3 separate regions of the Homo sapiens genome follow, and all the other regions are linked to region 3. The links come from fine-mapping of genetic effects on gene expression. A gene starts in region 3. Each other region holds a variant in brackets. All regions are shown on one strand. Distances are between the middles of the regions.

Region 1 (8,147 bases), 290 kb after region 3:
AGCCTCCCGAGTAGCTGGGACCACAGGCGTGCACCACCATGCACAGCTAATTTATTTTAGATTTTTTGGTAGAGACGGCTCACTATGTTGCCCAGGCTGGTCTCAAACTCCTGGCCTCAAGTGATCCTCCTGCTTCCGACTCCCAAAGTCCTGGGATTACAGGTGTGAGCTACCGTGTGATTAATAGATCACCACCTATTAATAATAATCAATTAATTATTGGAGTCTTTTTTTTTTGAGATAGAGTCTTGCTCTGTCACCCAGGCTGGAGTGCAGTGGGTGCCGTCTCAGCTCACTGCAACCTCTGCCTCCCAGGTTCAAGTGATTCACCCACCTCAGCCTCCCAAGTAGCTGAGACTACAGGTGTGCACCACCACACCCAGCTAATTTTTGTATTTTTAGTAGAGATGGGGTGTTGGGAGCCGAAAGGGCCAAAGGGATTGTGACCAACTCAGCATTCCACTGAAGGCTATATGATCAAACAGCCACCTGTTTATCACGAATGCAGGATGTGGGCAAACTCCCACTGCCCTGCCACCAAAAGGTTTGCTGAGGGCCTTACTCCTTGGCACTGGGGTCCCTGAAGTTATCTACTGAGAAAATTAGCACCTATTGTTCAAAGGATGCAGTCTCACAAGCCTGCTGTGAACCAAAGTGCTGACCGACAATTACCTGACATACCCGACAATCACCCTCCCCCTTTCTCGCTATCTCTTTTGCCTACTACATACAGAGGGCTGTGTAAAGCTCAGGGCCCTTGTCCACTAGAGGCAAGGTGCCCCCTGACCCCTTCTTCCAAATATACTCTTTTGTCTCTTGTCTTTTATTCCCACGTTTGCCCGGCTTTGTTCAGTCCCCCTAGGTCCGTGCGGGCTATGATGGGGTTTCACCATGTTGGCCAGGCTGGTCTCGAACTCCTGGCCTCAAGTGATCTGCCCACCTCGGCCTCCCAAAGTGCTGGGATTACAGGCGTGAGCCACCACACCTGGCAATTATTGGAGTCTTTAAAAACACAGTCATGGGCCTTGTTTGCTGGTACCTCCAGCACATGCTCACTGTATCCACGGGACAGCCAGATTCGAAACATCAATATCAGAACAAACTTAGGAGATAAGGTGTCTTTCAGACGAGGGCACGGAGGCTCTGTGTGGGAGGTTGAGGGACTTGCCCAAAGCCATGCCGTCAGTAAGATGGCAGAGCTGACATGACTGACACCCCCTCCTTCTGGGCAGTTTGTGTCCTGTGGGCTCAGTCTGGTTTAAGACCACAGATTTGACTTAGACTGTCAGCACACACAAGCCAGTGTCACCATTTATTTCCTGCCGGTGTCTTTGGGCAAATCCATTTTCCCTTCTCTGTAAAGTGGAAACTATTTTTTTTCTTTTTTCTTTTTTTTTTTTGTGAGACAGAGTCTCTCTCTGTCACCCAGGCTAGAGCGCAGTGGTGCCATTTTGGCTCACTGCAACCTCTGCCTCCCAGGTTCAAGCAATTCCCCTGCCTCAGCCTTCTGAGTAGCTGGGAATTCAGGTGTGTGCCACCACGCCTGGCTAATTTTTGTATTTTTGGTAGAGACGGGGTTTCACCATGTTGGCCAGGCTGGTCTTGAACTCCTGACCTCAAGTGATCTGCCTGCCTCGGCCTCCCAAAGTGCTGGGATTACAAGTGTGAGCCCTCATGCCCGGCCTTCTTTTTTTTTTTTTTTTTTTTTTTTTTTTTTGAGTCAGCGTCTAGCTCTGTCGCCCAGGCTGGAATGCTGCAGTGGTGAGATCACGATTCACTGACTTGAACTCCTTGGCTCAAGTGGTCCTCCCACCTTGGCCTCTCAAAGTGCTGGAATTACAAGCATGCCTAGGTGCCTGGCCAGGTAGAAACATTAGTCACTCGCGCTCCAGGAAGGTTGTCAGGCAGCGCTGAGCAGTAATGTGTCCTACTCACCTGCTGTTTATCCAGCACCAGACCTCTTCTAAGAACTTTACCTGTTTCAGCTCACTGAATCCTCACAACACCCATTGTACAGAAGAGGAAACTGAGGCAGCGAGTGGTTAAGTGACTTCTCCGAGGTTACACAGCTAGGAAATGGTGGCAACAGTAAGAGCCCACGAAGAGCTGCGGTTGGTAGTTCATTCTGGACAGCCCTCCCGTGAACCGTCCCTGTACTGGCACTTGTTGCTGGGGACTGTCGCTGTCCTCTCCCTCCCCGGGCCAGGTGTGTCCTGGAGGGCAGGGAAGCGTCTTGGCACGCGGGTGCGCGCCGCCCCCTCGGCCTCCTGGGCTCCCTGAACCTCGCAGGACCCCGGCAACTTCGAGCCCCGCCCCAGCTCCAGGCCGCGGGGGCGCATCGCGGGCGTCGGGCGGGGCGGCCCAGCGGGTAAAAGCTGCGCGGCCGCAAGCTCGGCACTCACGGCTCTGAGGGCTCCGACGGCACTGACGGCCATGGCGCGTTCGAACCTCCCGCTGGCGCTGGGCCTGGCCCTGGTCGCATTCTGCCTCCTGGCGCTGCCACGCGACGCCCGGGCCCGGCCGCAGGAGCGCATGGTCGGAGAACTCCGGGACCTGTCGCCCGACGACCCGCAGGTGCAGAAGGCGGCGCAGGCGGCCGTGGCCAGCTACAACATGGGCAGCAACAGCATCTACTACTTCCGAGACACGCACATCATCAAGGCGCAGAGCCAGGTGCGGCGGGCGGGGTGCTGGGAGGGGACACCCGGCCCAGATGGGGGAGGCCACAGGCGCTGCCCCAGCGTGCATGAAGGGGGCCTAAAAGCGCAATCGGGATATTTTCATGCAATATTTTAAAAATCGAATTAATGCTAAAACTCCACGATGGACAACCATCTAAATTTCAAGGAAAGACATAATTAAACCCTGTATTGCACTACCTGCCTTCCTGGCTTGCCTGGTCCTAGTCTCTGCCCTGATGGGGTGGATCGGGGAGGAGGGAAGGCAGGTGGGGACAGTGGGCAGCTCCCTAGATGGGGCATGTCTGATGTCTGCCAAGGCTGCTGGTGGGGCTCAGCCTCCAGGCCTCTCCACCCTCCATCCCCACCAGAACTCCCCCCCCCACCCCCCCCCACCCCCCCCCACCCCGTCTGAATCATCCCCTCTCCCTCTCTCCCCACCTGAGTGCCTGGGGGCAACAGGAGAATATATCAAGAGGTGAGAAGTGAGGATCAAGGGTCAAGACCCCTGACCTGCCCCTACCCTATGCCCCCAGCTGGTGGCCGGCATCAAGTACTTCCTGACGATGGAGATGGGGAGCACAGACTGCCGCAAGACCAGGGTCACTGGAGACCACGTCGACCTCACCACTTGCCCCCTGGCAGCAGGGGCGCAGCAGGAGGTAACAGCTGGGCTCCTCCAGCCCCAGCCCTCCCCAGAGCCTCAGGCACTCAGGTTGTCCATCCTGAACTGGTTTGGCTGGACACGTAGATGTCTAGATGTCTGGCTGAACCTGTCGTCCTTCTGGATGAGTCAGCCTCTGGGCCAAGATGGGGTGCAGAAAGGAAGCTGGGGCTTCCCTCGGGAATGGGGAAGTTGGCTACCAAGATCTGGAGTCTAGCCCCAGACATGCGGCTTGACATCCGTTGGGTCAGTGATTGTCCCTCTCTTGGCCTGGAGCAGCCTGGCAGGCAGAGGGCTGGCTGTTGGGAGGAGACAGGTCGAGGCTGGGCTCACCCCTCCTTCTCCCCCATATTCCCTCCACAGAAGCTGCGCTGTGACTTTGAGGTCCTTGTGGTTCCCTGGCAGAACTCCTCTCAGCTCCTAAAGCACAACTGTGTGCAGATGTGATAAGTCCCCGAGGGCGAAGGCCATTGGGTTTGGGGCCATGGTGGAGGGCACTTCAGGTCCGTGGGCCGTATCTGTCACAATAAATGGCCAGTGCTGCTTCTTGCATTGGTTTCTTCCAAGTGCTTCGCTTCTGCCCCCATCCCCCACTCCCACTTCTGGCAGCTCCCAGCTCCCCAGCCCAAGCTGAGAGGTCACCCTGCCACCTGCAGCAGAGCTGCTGCTGTCCCAGCCCAGACAGTGCTGAAGGTGCAGGGCTGAGCCTCCAAATGTGGAGCCCCCAAACACCCCAGCATCACAGGCATAGAGGAACAAACCTTAGAGCCCCCACACACAGCCAGAGACTCCCAATATTCTCAGAGGTCAGGGGTGGCGGCAGACTCACAGAGGAGGGGCGATGGCCTGAGATAAGAACAGGGCCGGCTGCCTGGGAGCACTCTGAGGAGGAGTCTGTGCTGTGCTCCCACTCAGCCCCAGGAGGAGCTCATGGGTGGCATGGGGGGCTTCAATCAGGCAGTGTCCTCACCCAGGACACTGAGCTCCCAGCCTATAAAGATTCCTCCACCTGCATGTGGCCCAACGATGGCAGAGTCCCTGCAGGCCAAGAGACCATGAAGGCTAGGACAGTGCCTCTCAGTCCACACTGTGGGCTCCACGCCACAAGGACGCCTCTCTTGCCTTGCCCTGGGCAAGACGCCTGAAAGGGGCTAGACTAGGAGCCGCAGAGGGACAGAGATTGTCTAGCGCCCACAGGAGGGGTGAGGGGACAGATTCAATGTAATGTCATTTAAAGAAAACAGCATTGCAGCCGGCCTCACACCTGTAATCCCAGCACTTTGGTAGGCTGAGGTGGATGGATCACCTGAGGTCAGGGGTTCAAGACCAGCCTGGTGGCCGGGCGCGGTGACTCACGCCTGTAATCCCAGCACTTTGGGAGGCCGAGGCGGGCAGATCACGAGGTCAGCAGATCGAGACCATCCTGGGTAACACGGTGAAACCC[C/T]GTCTCTACTAAAAATACAAAAAATTAGCTGGGTGTAGTGGCGGGCGCCTGTAGTCCCAGCTACTCGGGAGGCTGAGGCAGGAGAATGGCGTGAACCCGGGAGGTGGAGCTTGCAGTGAGCCGAGATGGCGCCACTGCACTCCAGCCTGGGCGCCAGAGCCAGACTCCATCTCAAAAAAAAAAAAAAAAAAAAAAAAACCAGCCTGGCCAACATGGTGAAATCCCATCTCAACCAAGAATACAAAAATTATCTGGGTGTGGTGGCAGGTGCCTGTAATCTCAGCTACTCAGGAAGCTGAGGTAGGAGAATCGCTTGAATCCAGGAGGCAGAGGTTGCAGTGAGCCGAGATTGCGCCACTGCACTCCAGTCTGGGAGACAGAGCGAGACTCCATCTCAAAAAAATTAAAAATAAAAAAAGAAGAAGAAAACAGCATTGCAACATTTGCACATCTGAATTTGTGGCTGCAATTCATACCCCCCCATACATATACACACGCACACACCCAAAGCACAACACACCAGACATACACACACAGACACCCAGAGCACACACTCAGATGCTGGCAGATATCACATGCATACCCAGAGAAACACAGCCTAGCAACTCATGAGCACAGAAGCAACACACCCTAGAGAAACAACCTGGAGATGTACACACAAAACTCAAACACAACCCAAGGACCCACATGCCACACCCAGAGGTTCCTCAGATGCACAAGCACACACCCACACTTGGGATATGGGCCTTGGGGGTGCTAGGTATAGGCACCATCAGGCCCAGGCAGGCAGCACTGCAGTGGCTGCGGAGAGCATCCCACGGTCCTTCCTTTCTGACAAGGCCTCACACCCTGCTTGTGCCTGCCTGGTCCCCTGCCCAAGGCTGGGGCCTAATAAGCAGCAGCCCCAGCTCCCAGGCCCTGCTGTCGGCCTTTGGAGGCCAGATTGGGGTAGAGACGGGGAAACGGGAAGTAGACCCTGGGTCCCACCTGGGAGTGAGAAGCTGAGGGGTGGCATTTGACAGGAGCTGGGGACCCAGGAGACAACATCCAGCCCTGCTTCTGCTCAAGCTTGTCAGATGTGGCAGCTCAGACAGCCCAGGGTGTGTGCGGGGCCTGCTGCTTGGAAGGGCTCCCATGTGCCACCAAGCAGGGACTCCCAGCATGGGGCAGGCACAGGGTGGGTGGCAGGAAATGCCTGTTGAATGAATGTGTGAGGTGGTGGAGAGAAGCAAGGCCCAGAGACGCCTGCCCGGTGACCTCTCCGCCCCTGGAATCTGTGCCCAAATCCCAGATGGCATTTCCTCCGCATAGTCTATTCCTGGGCCCTGGGCCCTGGGCCAGCCAGTGCCTTCCGCCAGACCAGGGAGGGGAGGTGCTTCTTCTGTCCTGGGACCCTGGAAGCTCCAGCACTGACTGGTCTGGTCCAGAGATGGGAGGGTTGGCAAAAAACTATTGCCCTTCAGCTCCCGCTCCTGACTCCCTCCGGCCTGAACTGCACCCTGGATTCGCCTCTACTAGAGGTGAGATGGCTGTTGTAGATAATGGAAAACCCTCCACTTAAGGAGAGACCCCTGGGGCCAGGGCGAGGCTTGAACTTGACTCAGTGCTAGGTCTCCAGCACCCAGCATAGGCCAGTGTCCCACTGTCACCCCCAGCCATGGGGACAGGGGCTCTGGACATCCAGCCTAGGCTCAGGCTATCAGTCGGGGAGGTCATCTAAGTCCTAGAGCAGGCAATGGGGCGCAGCCTTCAGCCTCATTCCCTGCTTCCCTCTCCCAGCAGCAGGGTCCTCCACACATCCCTGCCCGCCCCTTGCCCTGAGGCCAGAAGGACTTGAGCAGCCCCGACTCCACCTCCCCTCAGTGGGGCTCTAGAGTCTGACCCCAGAAAGGGCAGGATATGGCAATGACCTCCGACCTCTGGGTTCATGATATCCCCATCCGGTTGGTGCTCTTCTACTGGAGCTGAGGGTCCTGGTAGGATTGAGTTCCTGGGCTCTGAGTCCCCATTCCTAGAGCCTATTGGGCCCCCAGGCCCTGGTAACCCTGGGGTGTTCAGGCCTATTCTTTTTCTCCTGACTCTTGGGCCAGATGGGCCTTCCTCCCCAAAGCAGGGTTACTGCCTCCTCGGCCCTCCCGGCACCGCCGGCACCTGAGCTCAGCCCACGTTCTGCTTCATCCCTCCAGCTGCTGCTAATGCCCTGCTGGGCTGAGCTAGCATGCGGGCGCTGGTAGGGCTGGAGGGGATCCAAGAGCAGCTCCTTTCACATGCAACACGGGCACACACTCGTTCGTGTGTGTGCACCAATTCCCTTCCCTGCGCCTTGGCCTAGTCAGTGAGGACATGGAGCCTCCTGGGGTTTAAAAACTCTGTTGGGGCCCCTGCTCTGCAGGGCCCGGACAATCATTCCAGCAGATCTGGGGACCCGTCCCAGTGCACCCAGGTGGGCAGACTGCCAGGGGCTGAAGTCTGTATCTGGTGTCCTCCTGGGGTCAATTCCTGAAGTCCTCTTCTCCAGCCTGCAGGGGTGAGTGGGGCACTGGTGGGTGAATGAGCCAGACTTTGCCTTCCCCGATCCCCATGGGAGTTACTTGGAGCCATTTCTGGCTACAAGCCCCTGGGGTTCCCCTCGCCGGCCCCTTCCCGCTCCTGCCTGGTTCACCTCAAATGTGGTGTCCACAATCTCATCGATGACGGCTGCCTGGGAGCGGAACTTCTGCTGCTCCTGCTCCACGCTTGCCACCAGCTGCAGGTAATGGAACAGGAGCTCCTGCTGCCTGCGGGTGGGCGGGGGGGTCGCAGAGACAGGGGCTGGGCTGACCTGCTGGCTGGGCCTACTGCACCCCAGAACCACCCAGAGGCTCTTCTTGCCTGCCTCCTCCCCACAAAATTTATATGACTGCAGACCTGCATTTCCAGGAGGTCTCCTTTTCCAGATATGAGAAAGAGCCCAAGTCTGCCTGTAGCGCAGAGGCTTCTGGCTTTGTTTATCTTCCTAACCACCCATCCCTCCACCCACCCATTTGTCAGCCCCATTCCTCCCCATACGCCCACTCGACCATCCACCCATCCATCCACCCACCTCCTTATCCAGTCACTCACCCATCTGGCCCTCCAGCCACTCACAACTCACCTCCCCCTCCACCCACCTGCTCTTCCCTGTAGCCACCCCCCACCCACCCATTGACACCTTCATCATGCTGTGTAGTCAGTCACCCACCTGTCCCTCCACCCACTCATCTGCCCACCACATTACCCATTGTCCCATTCACACCCTCCCCGCCATCTTGTCAACCCATTCATCAAAGAACACTGGAAACAATGAACACAGCAAGGTACTCCGAGGAGATGGAGATGAATG
Region 2 (8,175 bases), 310 kb after region 3:
CTTTAGCCCTGTTGTTGGAAAGAAAATGGTCCAAGTGGTCCAGTCTTCAGTCCCATCTAGAGATCAGCTGGCTCTGGGGTGAAGACTGCCTGACTCCCTCATAAGTAGGTGTGTGACCTTGGGCTTGTTGCTGAACTTTCCCGTGCCTCAGTTTCTTCCTCTGTAAAATGGGAATAATAATACCTAGCCCACAGGATCAAAAAAGTTAAGATATGTAAGCCTTATATTAACAGCATAATACATGGTTTTTGTTGTTGTTGTTGTTGTTTGTTTCTTTGTTTGTTTTTGAGATGGAGTCTCGCTCTGTCGCCCAGGCTGGAGTGCAGTGGCACGATCTTGACTCACTGCAACCTCCACCTCCCAGCTTCATGCCATTTTCCTGCCTCAGCCTCCCAAGTAGCTGGGACTACAGGCGCCCACCACCACGCCCGGCTAACTTTTTCTATTTTTAGTAGAGACGGGGTTTCACCATGTTAGCCAGAATGGTCTTGATCTCCTGACCTCGTGATCCGCCTGCCTTGCCCTTCCAAAGTGTTGGGATTACAGGTGTGAGCCACTGCGCCCAGCCCATGTTTTTTTGTTTTTGTTTTTGTTTTTTGAGACAGTCTCACTGTCACCCAGGCTGGAGTGCAGCGGCATGATCTCCACTCATGGCAATCTCTGCCTCCCAGGTTCAAGTGAGCCTCCTGCCTTAGCCCCCTGAGTAGCTGGGATTACAGCCACCCACCACCATACCCCACCCCGGCTAATTTTTTTTTTTTTTTTTTTGAGACAGAGTCTTACTCTGTCACTAGGCTGGAGTGCCGGGGTGCAATCTTGGCTCACTGCAATCTCTGCCTCCTGGGTTCAGGCAATTCTCCTGCCTCAGCTTTCCTAGTAGCTGCGACTACAGGTGCACACCACACCCAGCTAATTTTTGTATTTTTAGTAGAGACGGGGTTTCACCATGTTGACGAGGCTGCTCTTGAACTCCTGACCTCAAATGATCCACCCACCTCGCACTCCCTAAGTGCTGGGATTTCAGGTGTGAGCCACCATGCCTGGCCAATACATGTTAATTGGCATTATTATTCTCTTCTTGATCTTGGAACCCCCCTTTAGGGTTATTACCAAAATTAAACTATCAGCCATCATTTATTGAGGATTGCTTCATACACATTTTGTTTTCTTTCTTTCTTTTTTTTTTTTTGAGACACAGTCTTGCTCTGTCACCTAGGGTGGAGTGCAGTGGCATGGTCTCAGCTCACAGCAACCTCCACCTCCTGAATTCAAGCAATTCTCCTGCCTCAGTCTCCCAAGTAGCTGAAAGTACAGGCGTGCACCACTACGCCCAGCTAACTTCTTTTGTATTTTAGTAGAGATGGGGTTTCACCCTGTTGGTCAGGCTGGTCTCGAACTCCTGATCTCAAACGATCTGCCCGCCTCGACAACCCAAAGTGCTGGGATTACAGGCATGCGCCACCGTGCCCGGCCCATACACATTAAATTTAATCCTCACAATAGCCCCACATGGTAGATATTGTTTATCCCCATTTGACAGACAAAGGTGCTATGGCTCAGAGAATATAAATGAGTTGCTTGATGAATGAAAACTTACCGTCAGTGCTATCTCACTCCAAGTCTGTATCTGTAACCTTCATGCTGTCCTGTCTTCCTCCTGGAATCCACTGCAGAGCTTGCCCTGTATGCTGAATTCATATGTGCACAGCGCAGCTCTTCTGGAAGCTTATGGGTCTCAGCTTCTTGAGTGCTTGGTCAGAGCCATGTCCATAGTGGCTGCTGGGTTCCCAGTGATGAAAGAGACACGGCTCCTGTTTTAAGGAGCTCACTATCTGTTGCCAGCAGCAGACAAAGAAACAATTTGTGTGGGCTGGGCATGGTGGCTCACACCTGTAATCCCAGCACTTTGGGAGGCCAAGGCGGGTGGATCGCCTGAGCTCAGGAGTTTGAGACCAGCCTGGGCAACATGGTGAAACCCTGTCTCTACTAAAATACAAAAAATTAGCTGGATGTGGTGGTGTGCGCCTGTAGTCCCAGCTGCTTGGGAACTTGGGAGGCTGAGGCATGAGAATTGCTTGAGCCCAGGAGGCGGAGGTTGCAGTGAGCTGAGATCACACCATTCCAACAAGAGCGAAACTCCATCTCAAAAAAAAAAAAGAAAGAAAGAAAGAAAAAGAGAAGACTCTACCCTGAGAGAGAACAACAACCTCACATGTTGATGACATGATCTCTGATACTGAACAGGTTTTCGTTTTTGTTTTCTTGATAATAAACTGAAAAACAACTTGCTTTTTTTTTTTTTTTTTTTTGAGACAGAGTCTCCCTCTGTCGCCCAGGCTGGAGTGCAGTGGCGCGATCTTGGCTCACTGCAATGCCGCCTCCTGGGTTCACGCCATTCTCCTGCCTCAGCCTCCCGAGTAGCTGGGACTACAGAAGCCCGCCACCACGCCCGGCTAATTTTTTGTATATTTAGTAGAGATGGGGTTTCACCATGTTAGCCAGGATGGTCTTGATCTCCTGACCTCGTGATCCGCCCGCCTCAGCCTCCCAAAGTGCTGGGATTACAGGCGTGAGCCACCACACCCGGCCACAACATAATCTTTATCCTGGCTGATGAGTCAACTTATTTCACCAATAAAATGGTGAATGCTTACCACGCCATAGCACTAGTAAGATCTGTAAATGGTCAGCATGATCATCGAGAAAATGTTTCAGCTTTTCCAAACAAACAAAAAGCCAAGATAGATTTAATGTCATTTCATATCAGGAATCATCAAAAAGTCTGTCTTGGAAGAACTACCTTGGCATTTATACTGATGGTTCAAATCAGTGGTTAGCTCCATAAGAATTTTTACTGTTCTTGGAAAGAAACAAAACCACAAACAAAAACTTGATGTTGTCACAACACACTGCTTTCTTCACAGAGAGGCACTGGTGTCAGAAACTCTTGGAGATGAAAAGTAATGATGGAGCAAAACGTTTGCCTTTATTCAACAAAGACTCACTCACTTGAAAATGTTTTAAAAACTGGCCAGGCAGGCTGGGCGCAGTGGCTCATGCCTGTAATCCTAGCACTTTGGGAGGCCGAGGTGGGTGGATCAGGAGGTCAGGAGATCAAGACCATCCTGGCTAACACAGTGAAACCCCATCTCTACTAAAAATGCAAAAAATTAGCCGGGCGTGGTGGCGGGCGCCTGTAGTCCCAGTTACTTGGGAGGCTGAGGCAGGAGAATGGCGTGAACCCGGGAGGCGGAGCTTGCAGTGAGCCGAGATGGCGCCACTGCACTCCAGCCTGGGTAACAGAGCGAGACTCCGTCTCAAAAAAATATATAAAATAAAATTTAAAAAATGTGGCCAGGCAGGCTGGGCGTGGTGGCTCACGACTGTAATCCCAGAACTTTGGGAGGCTGAGGCAGGAGGATCACCTGAGGTCAGGAGTTCGAGACCAGTCTGGCCAACATGGTGAAACCCTGTCTCTACTAAAAATACAAAAATTAGCTGGGTGTGGTGGCGGGTGCCTCTAATCCCAGCTACTTGGGAGGCCAAGGTGGGAGAATCGCTTGATCCTGGGAGGCGGAGGTTGCAGTGAGCCGACATGGTGCCACTGCACTCCAGCCTGGGCAACAGTGCTGGGATTACAGGCGTGAGCCACCAAGACTGGCAATATATTTGTTTTTAATTTTAAAAACTAAAAGAAAAGCCGGCATGGTGGCTCATGCCTATAATCCTAGAACTTTGGGAGGCCGAGGCAGGTGAATCACTTGAGGCTAGTAATCCGAGACCAGCCCGGCCAATATAGCAAAACCCTAGCTCTACTAAAAATACAAAAACAAAAACAAAATGCAGCTGGGCATGATGGTGGGAGCCTGTAGTCCCAGCTATTCAGGAGGCTGAGACCTGAGAACTGCTTGATCCCAGAAGGTGGAGGTTATAGTAAGCCAAGATCGTGCCACTGCACTCCAGCCTGGGTGACAGAGCAAGACTCTGTCTCGGAAAAAAAAAAAAAAAAACTTAGAAAAACTGAAATGAATTAAAAGCACTGTATAAAAACATAGACAAGGCATTCTTTTTTTTTTTTCCTTTTTGAGATAGAGTTTCACTTTTGTTGCCCAGGCTGGAATGCAATGATGCGATCTTGGCTCACTGCAACCTCTGCCTCCCAGGTTCAAGTTCTCCTGCCTCAGCCTCCCGAGTAGCTGGGATTATAGGCATGAGCTACTGCGCCTGGCCTGAGCACAGCCATTTTCTTTTCTTTTCTTTCTTT[C/CT]TTTTTTTTTTTTTTTGAGACGGAGTTTCGTTCTGTCGCCCAGGCTAGAGTGCAGTGACACGATCTCGGCTCACCTCAACCTCCACCTCCCAGGTTCAAGGGATTCTCCTGCCTCAGCCTCCCGAGTAGCTGGGACTACAGGCGCCCGCCACTAGGCCTAGCTAATTTTTTTGTATTTTTTTGGTAGAGACAGGATTTCACCGTGTTAGCCAAGATGGTCTCCATCTCCTGACCTCAAGTGATCCGTCTGCCTCGGCCTCCCAAAGTGCTGGGATTACAGGTGTGAGCCACCGCGCCCGGCCAATTGAGCACAGCCATTTTCTAGCACACGCAGACATCTGGTGGTGGAGCACTCTGTATGGGACCATTGAGAAAGCCTGGGTCTGGCCAGGTAAAGAGGCTGACACAATCTACAGCATGAGTCATCCCATCTCATCACCGAGGGCTGCTGCACCGATGGCTCTCTGATGGGCACTTCATATGGGAATCTTCCCACCCTGTGACTATTTTGAGAAGCTGGCCACAGTCCTGTCTCCTAGGCCATCAGATTGCCAGTTGTGCTCTTTCAAAGTCTCTGCAGCTGGCCAGCCTATCAGATGCTGCTCACCAGTCCATGTAAATCTGTACCTTAGGCCACCTTTCCTCCACAGAAAGCATCCACAGATGTATTGCCCCAAAGTTCCACCCACTGGGAGAATTTTCCTTCACCACTGTCTGTAACCTCAAACTCCTGAGCTCAAGCAATTCTCCCTCCCCCTTTAGCCTCCCAAGTAGCTGGTACTACAGGTATGCACCATCACACCTGGCTAATTTTTAAACCTTGTTTTTGTAAAGACTGGGTCTCACTATGTTGACCAGGCTGGTGTGAAACTCCTGGGCTCAAGTGATCCTCTCATCTCAGCCTCCTAGAATGCTGGGATTACAGGCATAAATCACCATGCTTGGCGCTCTTGTCTTGTCTGTCTGTCCCTCCCTTCCTTCCTTCCTTCCTTCCCTCCTTTTCTTTTTGCTTTTTTTTTTTTTTTTTTTGACGGAGTTTTGCTCTTGTTACCCAGGCTGGAGTACAATGATGCAGTCTCGGCTTGCTGCAACCTCCACCTCCCGGGTTCAAGCAATTCTCCTGCCTCAGCCTCCCAAGTAGCTGGGATTACAGGTGCCCACCACCACGACCCGCTAATTCTTGTATTTGTAGTAGAGTCGAGGTTTCGCCATGTTGGCTGGGCTGGTCTTGAACTCCTGACCTCAGGTGATCCACCCGCCTTGTGCTCCCAAAGTGCTGAGATTACAGGCGTGAACCACCAAGCCCAGCCTCTTTTCTTTTTTTAAAAAAACTGAGTTTCGGCCGGGCACGGTGGCTCACGCCTGTAATCCCAGCACTTTGGGAGGCCAAGGTGGGTGGATCACGAGGTCAGGAGATCGAGACCATCCTGGCTAACACGGCGAAACCCCGTCTCTACTAAAAATACAAAAAAAATAGCTGGGCGTGATGGCAGGCGCCTGTAGTCCCAGCTACGCGGGAGGCTGAGGCAGGAGAATGGCGTGAACCCGGGAGGCGGAGCTTGCAGTGAGCCAAGATTGCGCCACTGCACTCCCACCTGGGTGACAGAGCGAGACTCCGTCTCAAAAAAAAAACAAAAACAAAAACTGAGTTTCACTGTGTTGCACAGGCTAGAGTGCAGTGGCGCAATCTTGGCTCGCTGCAACCTCTGCCTCCCAGGTTCAAGCAATTCTCCTGCCTCAGCCTCCCAAGTAGCTGGGATTACAGGCACCTGCCCTGACGCCCAGCAAATCTGACGCCCAGCAAATCTTTGTATTTTTAGTAGAGACAGGATTTCACCATGTTGGCCAGGCTGGTCTCGAACTCCTGACCTCAAGTAATCTGCCTGCCTTGGCCTCCCAAAGTGCTGGGATTACAGGCATGAGCCACCGTGCCTGGCCCCTCCAGTGTTTTCTTAAATCCAGGCTAGAGGTCAGCAAACTCCTTCCACGAAGTGGTAAATGTCTTAGGCTTTGGATGCCATATGATCTTATTGCAGTTACCCAACTCTGCCAGTGTAGAGCATAAACAGCATTAGACAAGAAGTAAATGCATGAATGTGGCTGTGTTCCAATAAAACTTTATTTACAAAAACAGGTGGTAAGCCAGATTTGCTTGTAGTTTGCTCATCCCTGGTCTAGACAGTCAACAAATCAATAAAACCTCTGATGTATAATGTTTGTTGATTTGTAGTGTAAATACTCTCACGATGGCTGATTTCAGGCTATCAATGTAACACCACCAAGTGCTGTCCTGGAAGAGATAGGCAGTAAATAACACACTACTGGCTGGGCACAGTGGCTCACACCTGTAATCCAGCATTTTGGGAGGCCAACGCCTGCAGATCGCTTGAGCTCAGGAGTTTGAGACTAGCCTGGGTAACATAGTAAGACCCTGTCTACTAAAAAAAAAGATTTAGCCTGACAGAGTGGCACCAGGGATGCCAGGCTGAGGTGGGAGGATCACCTGAGCCCAGGGAGGTCAAGCCTGCAGTAAGCCAAGATCTCACCACTGTACTCATCTGGGCAACGGAAGTGAAACCCTGTCTCAAAAAAAAAAAAAAAAAAAGTAAATTGTAGTAAACTAATTAGTAAGTGATGAGTTTTGAGTATTTATCGTCTTTATTACTTATTTATTATTTTTTTGAGACGCAGTCTCACTCTGTCGCCCAGGCTGTAGTGCAGTGGTGCAATCTTGGCTCACTGCAACCTCCACCTCCCGGGTTCAAGTGATTCTCCTGCCTCAGCCTCCTGAGTAGCTGGTATTATAGGCGCACGCCACCATGCCTGGCTAATTTTTGTATTTTTAGTAGAGACGGGGCTTCATCATGTTGGTCAGGCTGGTCTGGAACTCCTGACCTCGTGATCCGCTCGCCTCGGCCTCTCAAAGTGCTGGGATTACAGGTGCGAGCCACTGAGCCCGGCCTATTGTCTTTATTATTTATACAATTTATTTAATTGTAATTTTATACAATTTAATTTTTTTTTCTTTTTGCACCAGAGTCTTGCTCTGTCGCCCAGCCTGGCGTGCAGTGGTATGATCTTGGCTCACTGTAACCTCCACCTCCCGGGTTCAAGCAATTCTCCTGCCTCAGCCTCCTGAGTAGCTGGGATTACAGGCACGTGCCACCACGCCCAACTAAGTTTTCTATTTTTAGTAGAGATGGGATTTCACCATGTTGGCCAGGCTAGTCTCAAACTCCTGACCTCAAGTGATCCACCTGCCTCGACCTCCCAAAATGCTGGGATTACAGGCGTGAGCCACCACGCCCAAGGAAAATTTAATTTTTAATAATGGTTGTGTCCAACAACTGGCTTGCACAATTCAGCTTTCTTTTTTTTTTTTTTTTTTTTCTTTTGAGACGAAATCTCGCTCTGTTGCCCAGGCTGGAGTGCAGTGGCGCGATCTTGGCTCACTGCAAGCTCTGCCTCCCAGGTTCACGTCATTCTCCTGCCTCAGCCTCCCAAGTAACTGGGACTTCAGGCGCCCGCCACCACGCCCGGCTAATTTTTTGCATTTTTAATAGAGATGGGGTTTCACCGTGTTAGCCAGGATGGTCTCCATCTCCTGACCTTGTGATCCGCCCGCCTCCGCCTCCCAAAGTGCTGGGATTACAGGCATGAGCCACCGTGCCCGGCCACAATTCAGCTTTCAAGAGCCAATAAGAGGCTGACCTGACATACCGTTGTGTTCAGGGAATGGAATGTAATCCAGTGTGGCTGGAATATGATGGCGTAGGGGGCAATGGGAGATGTAGGTGGAAGGTTTTGGGGATCAGATTAGGTTGGCGTGGGGAGAGGTGGTTTCAAACAGGGGAGTGAAAGGATCATATTGCTTTAACAAGGATCACCCTGAATACAGAGTGGGAAGCACG
Region 3 (8,175 bases):
CTCCCCAACCCTGAGGCCCCTTCTTCCCAGCCTCTTACTCCCCATCACCCCCCATTCTGTCTGTCTCACCACTCACTTGGAATAACCAAGCTCTGACCTGAGAAACAAGGAGGAAGTTCTAGCTGTTGACCTGGTGAAGACACAGAGGCTTTACCTGATCAAGGTTATGGTCCATTCGAGAAATTTTATTGGTTAAATGATGCCCAGATGGGGTCACATCCTCAGAACTTCTCAGCCTGGTAGCACAAGTGGATGCTTGAAGAAACTCAGTCTTGGAACTCAGACAGCAATGGAGACGGGATGTGAGTGGGACCAGCAAGGGGCTAAGGTCCATTATGAGGGTGAGGAAGGGCTTCTAGAAGTAACAAACATCCCAGGTCCCTGACTGGGGAGAATGAAGACACTGACCAAGAGATGTGAAGCCACTCAGGGCTGTGCAGGGTCTGAGGATCTCACTGGGGACGGCCTCCCAGCGGCCAGCTATCAGCACGAGTTGGAGGGAAAGAGCCATGGTGGGGGTCAGTCACGTGGCTCCCAGGAATGGTCTCCCCGACTTAGGAAGCACCTTGGTGCACCTTTTCTCCTTGCATCCTCACAACCACCCAGTCAGGCCACTCAAGTCTTACAGCAGGTGACACTCCCAAGGTCCCAGCTAGGAGGACTTTGAGAATTCAAGCATTCTCAGGTCTGGATTAGAGACAGGAATCTGTCTCCACTTCCTTACATGGCTAGACACAGAGCCCGGGATGGCAAAGGAAAATTGGAGGCCCCTTCTTCCCATGAGCCATTTTCTCTGCATCCCCTGCCCATAAGCCTTCACTGGCCTCTGATCACCCTCATGGTTGACTGCAGCTGCTCCTCTCAGTGCCCTCATGCCCTCCACTGTGCTCAGCGCACGGAAAGAGTGAATACTCAGTTCTTCCTGAGGGAACTGAGGCACAGAGAAGTGGAGGGCATAGAACTGCCAAGTGGCAGGGCCATGATAGGAACTAGGCAGCCTGCCTTGGCAACCTGTGTTTTTAAATGTTGCTTATGTTCATCTGTGACCTCTTACTCACCCTCTCCTGCTCCATTGCTTTAGGCTATGAACTCTCCAAAGTGGAAGGGAAAACAGGGACCCCTGAGAAGCCCCTCTCAGACCTTGGCCTCCTATCCTATCGAAGCTACTGGTCCCAGACCATCCTGGAGATCCTGATGGGGCTGAAGTCGGAGAGCGGGGAGAGGCCACAGATCACCATCAAGTGAGCCTGGCGCTGTCTACCTGGGGGTACATGGCATGGCTTGTCTGTTCCTGGGCTTTCTCTCTCAGGGCTCCTGGGGACAGATAAAGGTCCTCAGGGAACCTGACCTGTGCTCTCCCACAGTGAGATTAGTGAAATCACCAGCATCAAGAAGGAGGATGTCATCTCCACTCTGCAGTACCTCAATCTCATCAACTACTACAAGGTAGGGAGGCAGGCAGGGGAGACAGGTGTGTGGGATGCAGAGTGCAGTCCTCTGTGGGCTGACCACCTGCTGAACCCATCTCCTCTGCCCAGGGCCAGTACATCCTCACACTGTCAGAGGACATCGTGGATGGCCATGAGCGGGCCATGCTCAAGCGGCTCCTGCGGATCGACTCCAAGTGTCTGCACTTCACTCCCAAGGACTGGAGCAAGAGGGGGAAGTGGTGACCAGACACTGCCCACTGCAGTGCCAAGACGGCAGCAGGACTGGGGCTGATAGCCCACCCCGCCCCCACTGCAGCTCCCACAAAGCACTCTAAGGGAGATGGGGCTGAGGACAGCTCAAAAAGGAGAGGACAGGCCTGGCAGGGGCCCACTGGTGCCCAGCACCAAGGCGAGCTCCGGGCTCAGACCAACTCCAAGGTCAGCTGGCCACAGGCCCAGGCCTCCTCTGAAGCAGGGACCAGAGGGAGCCAGGCAGCTGTGTACAGTGAGAAGGGATCCGGATGGGGGAGCTCTGTACAGAGGGCTGGTGATTGTAAAAATTTCTTTTGTAAAGTAGAAGTTGGGGGTGGGGTGGGTGCTGGCTGCAAAAATTTCTGGCTTCTCTTACCCCTATTGCCCCCGGCAATAAATTGTTTCTATATGCCAGAGCCATGCAAAGTTCTTGGTGGGGAGGGGGAAAGGGCCCATGCTGGCTTAGGGGCTCTAAGGCGCCCAGACTCACAGGTGCTGTGAAGAGCTCCTTTATTGGGGTGATGGAATCGGTTCCAAAGAGCTGGTTTACTGCTGTGAAGGGATCGCAGCTTTGAATTTCAAGCTCTGGTTCTCAGTCCTCGGGCACCTGTGCGTGAATCTGCAACAGGAGTCGCCTCTACTGTTGGACTTGTAAGACAGGGCGGCAAGCTGGCCCCCATACCCGAGGAAGGACCCAGCTGTTCAGAATAACCGCTTCTAGACATGCTAGGAAGAGTGGTCAGGGAGCTACGCTTCCCACACACTACCCAGTAGAATCCTCCAGGCTCCGTCTGCGCAATTGTGCTCCCCAGCCCATCCACCCGGGGGCAAGACGGAACTCCTCGTCTACTCACCGCTGCCGCAAGGCTGGGCCAAGTTAAGGCCCCACGCACTTTGGCATCCGGGCCAGGGATGGTCTCCAGACCCCACAGGGTGAAGCGGCTGAAGTTGGCAGTGGCTCCAATGAAGCGGTCCTGGGGAAGGGGCCTGGCTCAGCATCGGGACTACAGCTCCCGCCCGCACCCCCTTTCAACCCTATCCCTTTGCTCACGAAGTCCCGCTCCAGCGGCTCCTCCTCTTGGTCGTCAGTCCCGGAATCCCGCAAGGGGTCTGGCTTCCCCATCGACACCTTCTTCTCTTCTGTCACCATCACGTATCCCACGAGGCCAGGCGGCACCGCCACCTCCTCTCCCCGTAGACAGCGGCCCCGAAACGACACTTCGAGTCCTGGAGCGGGAGGCGCAAAGGGCCTCAGGCAGGACCCACGCTGGGTCGAGCCCGGAGCTGCCCTCCCGCCACCTCCGGACGGACCACGATCCCCAGGAGCCCAGGCGATGAGAAGCGCGCAGGCCGGCGCGGGGGCTGCCGGGAGCCGTAGTCCGGCCGCAGGGCTCACCCTCGGGGCCCTGGCGGATGGCGGGCGTGAAGAAGCGCCCCACCGGGGCGGGCCCGTCCACCGCAACCTCGCAGGGCAGCAGATGCAGTGTGGCGGGTACGGCGTCGCGCAATGTGGCGGAGCGCAAGTGGACGCGGTGCCTCTCGATGGCCGCTTCGTCGCCGCTCTCCATCCTCCCTCCTACGCGACGCCAGGGCTCGCGAGCTGACACTGAAGCTGGCGCGGAAAGCGCGCAGGACCTCTCAGGAAGCCTCCGCGGGGCCTCACGGGAAGCCGCCGCGGAGCTTCACGGGAAGTGTAGTCCCCTTACCCCCTAACGCTTTCCCTGGGTTCAAGTCCTAGGGTTTTCCAGTTGTGTTTTGTTTTTTTCCTTCCTTCCTTCCCCCCTCCCCTCTTTCCTCCCTCCCCTCTCCCCCTCTCCTTCCCCCTCCCCCCTCCTTCCCCCTCCCCCCTCCCCCTCCTCCCTGCCTCCCTTCCTTCCCCCCTTCCCTTCCCTTCCTTCCCGTCCTTCCCTCTTTCTTTCTTTTTCTTATTTATTATTATTTTTTTTTGACAGAGTCTCGTTTTGTCGCCCAGGCTGGAGTGCCAGGCACGGTCTCAGCTCACTGCAACCTCCGCCTCCCGGGTTCAAGCGATTCTCCTGCCTCAGCCTCCGGAGTAGCTGGGATTACAGGCGCACACCACCATGCCCACCTAATTTTTGTATTTTTAGTAGAGACTGGGTTTCGCCATGTTGGCCAGGCTGGTCTCGAACTCCTGACCTCAGGCGATCCTCCAGCCTCGGCCTTCTGAAGTACTTGGATTACAGGCGTGAGACACCGCCCCCAGCCGGGTTTTTTTCTTTTATTGTTTTTAATGGCACATGTCGTTGTAAAAATCTAAAACGATTCTGAAAAGTACTCTTTTTATATTGATTAGTAGGTAGGTTATTCATTTTTAGTTTATTAGGGACATCAACCCTTTTCTTAAATGCATTGAAAATGTTTTATCTGTGGTCTGTCTTGCAAACCTGTGTAAAGGTGATTTTTGCTGGACAAGGACTTATTTTTGTGGTTGTTTGGTCTTTTAGACAAGGTCTCACTCGCCTAGGCTGGAGTGCAGTGGTTTGATTGGCTCACTGCAGCCTCGACCTCCCAGGCTTAATCCATCCCCCATCCTCAGCTTCCTGTGTAGCTGGAACCACAGGCCTGCGCCACCACGCAGCTAATTTTTGTATTTTTGGTAGAGGTGGAGTTTTGCCATGTTGCCCAGGCTGGTCTTGAACTCCTGGACTCAAGTGATCTGCCCACCTTGGCCTCCCAAATCACGCTGGAATTACAGGCGTGAGCCACTGCACCCAGGACAAAGACTAATTTTTTGTAGTCAAATTTATCAACACTTTTCAGTCTTTTAGATTTCACAATTTTCTCTCTTTGGTTTCTCAGCTCTTCTCTAATGTTTATTTGTTCAGACACCCAACTTAGATATATTTTTTCAAGTTCTCACATAAAACAAACACAAAACTGGAAATTTAGATTTAAATTGCGTTTAATTTATACATCCCTGCACATCTGGGAGCTGGCCTTGGTATTCTGTTGAATATAAACAATTTCAGAGAACATCAGCATCGGACAAGGTCACTCTGTGACCGTGAGGGAGCAAGACAGAAACAGAACCACTCCATCGTCACATCTGAATGCTGGCAAAGGTGAACACTGTCCAAACCACAAAAGGCATGAAACATCCCTCTTTCTCCCATAAGAGAGTGACTGTTGTTTCCTTACCAATTACAGCATTAGCCTCCAACTAATCTTCTCTCCTTCTGGGCAAGACTCATTAAGATAGTCCGTCATAGACATACCCCCACCTCTGACAGCATCCAAGCCAGAGAGAAGCCTGGCTTCCCTAAACCCTGACTGAAATCACTGAACATGGGCACAAATCCTCCTATAAGTCCTTTCTAGCACCCTCTTATTGAAATTCCCCAGAGTGCAGGAGTAATATACCCAATTTGTTCAACTGCAGATGTATTCCTGGTGCTCTTTCACTAGAGTGGCAGATTAATTTAGAAAAAGGCTTGCTTTAGTTTTCTATCAGGAAAGACATAATTCAATTTATTCACATCTCCTTGGATATCTGTACAGTTGTGAGGTTTTGTTCATATATAATAGCTATTAATACATATTGTAAAGTTTATTTCTTCTTAGCTTATATTAATAATTGTTTCTATTAAGAACTGAGGGGCTGGGCATGATGATTCACACCTGTAATTCCAGTGCTTTAGGAGGCCAAGATGGGGGAGGATTGCTTGAAGCCAGGAGTTTGAGACCGGCCTGGGAAACATAGCAAGACTCCGTTCCTACAAAGAAAAAAATTTTTTTAAACATGAGTGGGGCACAGTGGCATGTGCCTGTAGTCCCAGCTACTCAAGAAGCTAAGGTGGGAAGATCACTTAAGCCAAGGAGTTTGAGGCTGCCGTTCGAGTCACGATTGCACCACTGCACACCAGCCTGGGTTACGGAGGGAGACCCTTTCTCTAAAAACCAAAATTGGGGCTTTTATTTTTTTCATTTTATTTTCTAACTGATTTTCTTTTTAATCTATAGCAGGGGTTGGCAAACTTTTTCTGTAAGGGGTCAAATAGTAAATATTTTAGGTTTTGTGGACTTTATGGCTTCTGTCGCAGCTACTCAACTTCACCGTTATAGCATGAAAGCAGTCATAGACAATACATAAATGAATGAGCGTTGTTGTGTTCCAGTAAATCTTTGCAGAAACAGACAAGGGGTTGGATTTGAACCACAGGCCATAGTTTTCAGACCCCTTGTCTATAGCAAACCTGTTGATTTTTATATGTCCATTTTTAAACTAGATATCGACTGAATTATTTTGTTCCTAATGATTTTTATTTTATTTTAAGATCCCCAGAATTAGTCACCTCTCTTTCAAATAATAATTTTTACCTCACCATTACATCTTCTTTTTGTTTTTTGTTTTTTGTTTTTTTTTTTTCATTACACCTTGTAATTTGTTTTCTTTTCTAATTGCCTTGGCCAGTACTTGCAGAACAGTCTCTCAAATGTTACTGGTATCAGAGGACAACATTGTCTTTTTCCTGAAACTTTCACGGGAGTGCTTCTGCTGTTTCACCAATAATCATGAAACTGCCTTTTGACTTGTTATATATGTCTCATTAAAGCTGTACTACTAAGAGCTTTTAAAAATTGGGAGTAGATGTTGGATCTTATTTTTTATTTTTATGTTTTTGGTTTTGCAAGTTTCCTGTAGTCTGGATATTAGTAATTGCATTCCTATAGTGTCAAGGTAATCTATACCTGTATTTTCTGTAATTACATCTAGAAGCTTAATTCGATTCTTTGGGGAGGGGAGAGGGCAAGACTACTTCATGGGTGGTTTTGTGTTTTTCCCTCTTTTTGTGAGGTTAGCAGCCATAGATGATCATTGCCTAGATCCTTTAATTCATTAGAGGTTAAAACGCGTGTGTACGCGCACACACACACACACACACACATATTTTTGGGACAGAGTCTCACCTGGTAGCCCAGGCTGGAGCGCGGTGGCGCGATCTTGGCTCACTCAGCTCAACCTCTGTCTCCCGGGTTCAAGCAATTCTCCTGCCTTGGCCTCCTGAGTAGCTGGGATTACAGGCGCATGCCACCATGCCAGGCTAATTTTTGTATTTTTAGTAGAGATGGGGTTTTACCATGTTGGCCAGGCTGGTCTCCAAATCCTTACCTCAAGTGATCTGCTCCCCTCCCTTGGGCTCCCAAAGTGCTGGGATCACAGGCGTGAGGCATGGTGCCCAGCCTAAAACTGATATTCTAAGTCCTCTCATTTCTTCTTCATTTACTAGCTGAAATAGGTCTATAAAGAAAAACTCTCCCCATCAGCCATTTGATTGCCTGTTGGTACAGTGAGGATAAGAAAGACAAAATAATTAGGCCGGGCACAGTGGCTCACACCTGTAATCCCAGCACTTTGGGAAGCTGAGGTGGGTGGATCACTTGAGGTCAGGAGTTCGGGACCAGCCTGGCCAACACGGTGAAACCTTATCTCTACTAAAAAATACAAAAATTAGCCGGGCGTGGTGGCGCATGCCTGTAATCCCAGCTACTCAGGAGGCTGAGGCAGGAGAACTGCTTGAACCCGGGAGGTGGAGGTTGCAGTGAACTGAGATCGAGCCACTGCACTCCAGCCTGGGTGACAGAGCGAGACTGCATCTCAAAAAAATCCTTTTATTTTCCAGTTCTTAAAATAATGATTTGTTGCCCTAGCATATTCCAATGGTGACCTTTTAAAAATGTTAAATAAATATTAAATAAATAAATATAAATAAAAATAATAAATAATGGATTAACACTTTTATGTTTCACATAATTGTGGTTATTATTCTTACTGAGGTGCAAATTTCCCCATCTTCTGCCAGTGGAAGCCTCTTCAAGTTATCTCCTGAATCTTTCGATATGACCCTAGTGATCTTTTATACATATCTTTGTTTTCCAGTACCACAAGATGTTCCTGGCTCATCTTGTACATTTCCTGCCCCAGACTTGGAATTATACATCTCTCCAAAGATCGCTGGTTCCCTTCAGTGGGAAATGATATTTAGTAATCCAATCTGATACTAGATGTATTCATTGCTACTGAGTTAGCCTTTGTTTCTAGATATTTCCAGTGGACAAAGCTAGGAAATACGCATTTTTTTCCTCTCCTTTTTTTTTTTTTTTTTTTTGAGACAGAGTCCGCTCTGTCAGCCAGGCTGGAGTGCAGTGGCACAATCTCGGCTCACTGCAACCTCCGTCTCCTGGGCTCAAGCAATTCTCCTGATTCTCCTGCCTCAGCCTCCCGAGTAGCTGGGATTACAGGCGCCCACCACCATGCCCGGCTGATTTTTTTATATTTATTTATTTATTTTTGAGACGCAGTCTCACTCTGTCAGCCAGGTTGGAGTGCAATGGTGAGATCTCGGCTCACTGCAACCTCTGCCTCCCAGGTTCAAGCAATTCTCCTGCCTCAGCCTCCCGAGTAGCTGGGACTACAGGCGCCCGCCACCACGCCCGGCTAATTCTTTGTGTGTTTAGTAGAGACGGGGTTTCA

Evidence for each region. PIP is the estimated chance that this variant, and not a neighbour inherited with it, causes the effect.
Region 1: its variant is fine-mapped to the expression of RNASEH2C in whole blood (TOPMed, PIP above 0.99).
Region 2: its variant is fine-mapped to the expression of RNASEH2C in whole blood (INTERVAL, PIP 0.96).

Annotation. Positions count from the first base shown.
Region 1 is chr11:66,009,612-66,017,758 of GRCh38, forward strand. CST6 (cystatin E/M) reads left to right here and starts at 2,397. Exons shown (of 3, transcript NM_001323.4): 1 at 2,397-2,673; 2 at 3,215-3,340; 3 at 3,706-3,894. The coding sequence starts at 2,434. The coding sequence ends at 3,789. It overlaps CATSPER1 (cation channel sperm associated 1), which reads right to left. Exons shown (of 12, transcript NM_053054.4): 11 at 7,449-7,563; 12 at 7,141-7,305. The coding sequence ends at 7,279. RefSeq lists an enhancer at 3,879-4,454. The variant C/T (reference allele first, on the strand shown) is at 4,787.
Region 2 is chr11:66,026,740-66,034,914 of GRCh38, forward strand. No RefSeq gene overlaps it. Among named protein-coding and RNA genes, the nearest start is that of CATSPER1, 4.3 kb to the left of the region's middle. The variant C/CT (reference allele first, on the strand shown) is at 4,265.
Region 3 is chr11:65,717,509-65,725,683 of GRCh38, forward strand. It overlaps RNASEH2C (ribonuclease H2 subunit C), which reads right to left and starts at 3,290. Exons shown (of 4, transcript NM_032193.4): 1 at 3,079-3,290; 2 at 2,734-2,909; 3 at 2,537-2,656; 4 at 165-2,301. The coding sequence starts at 3,250. The coding sequence ends at 2,275. It overlaps KAT5 (lysine acetyltransferase 5), which reads left to right. Exons shown (of 13, transcript NM_182710.3): 11 at 1,082-1,241; 12 at 1,365-1,446; 13 at 1,539-2,096. The coding sequence ends at 1,673. RefSeq lists a silencer at 2,976-3,215 and an enhancer at 3,366-3,435.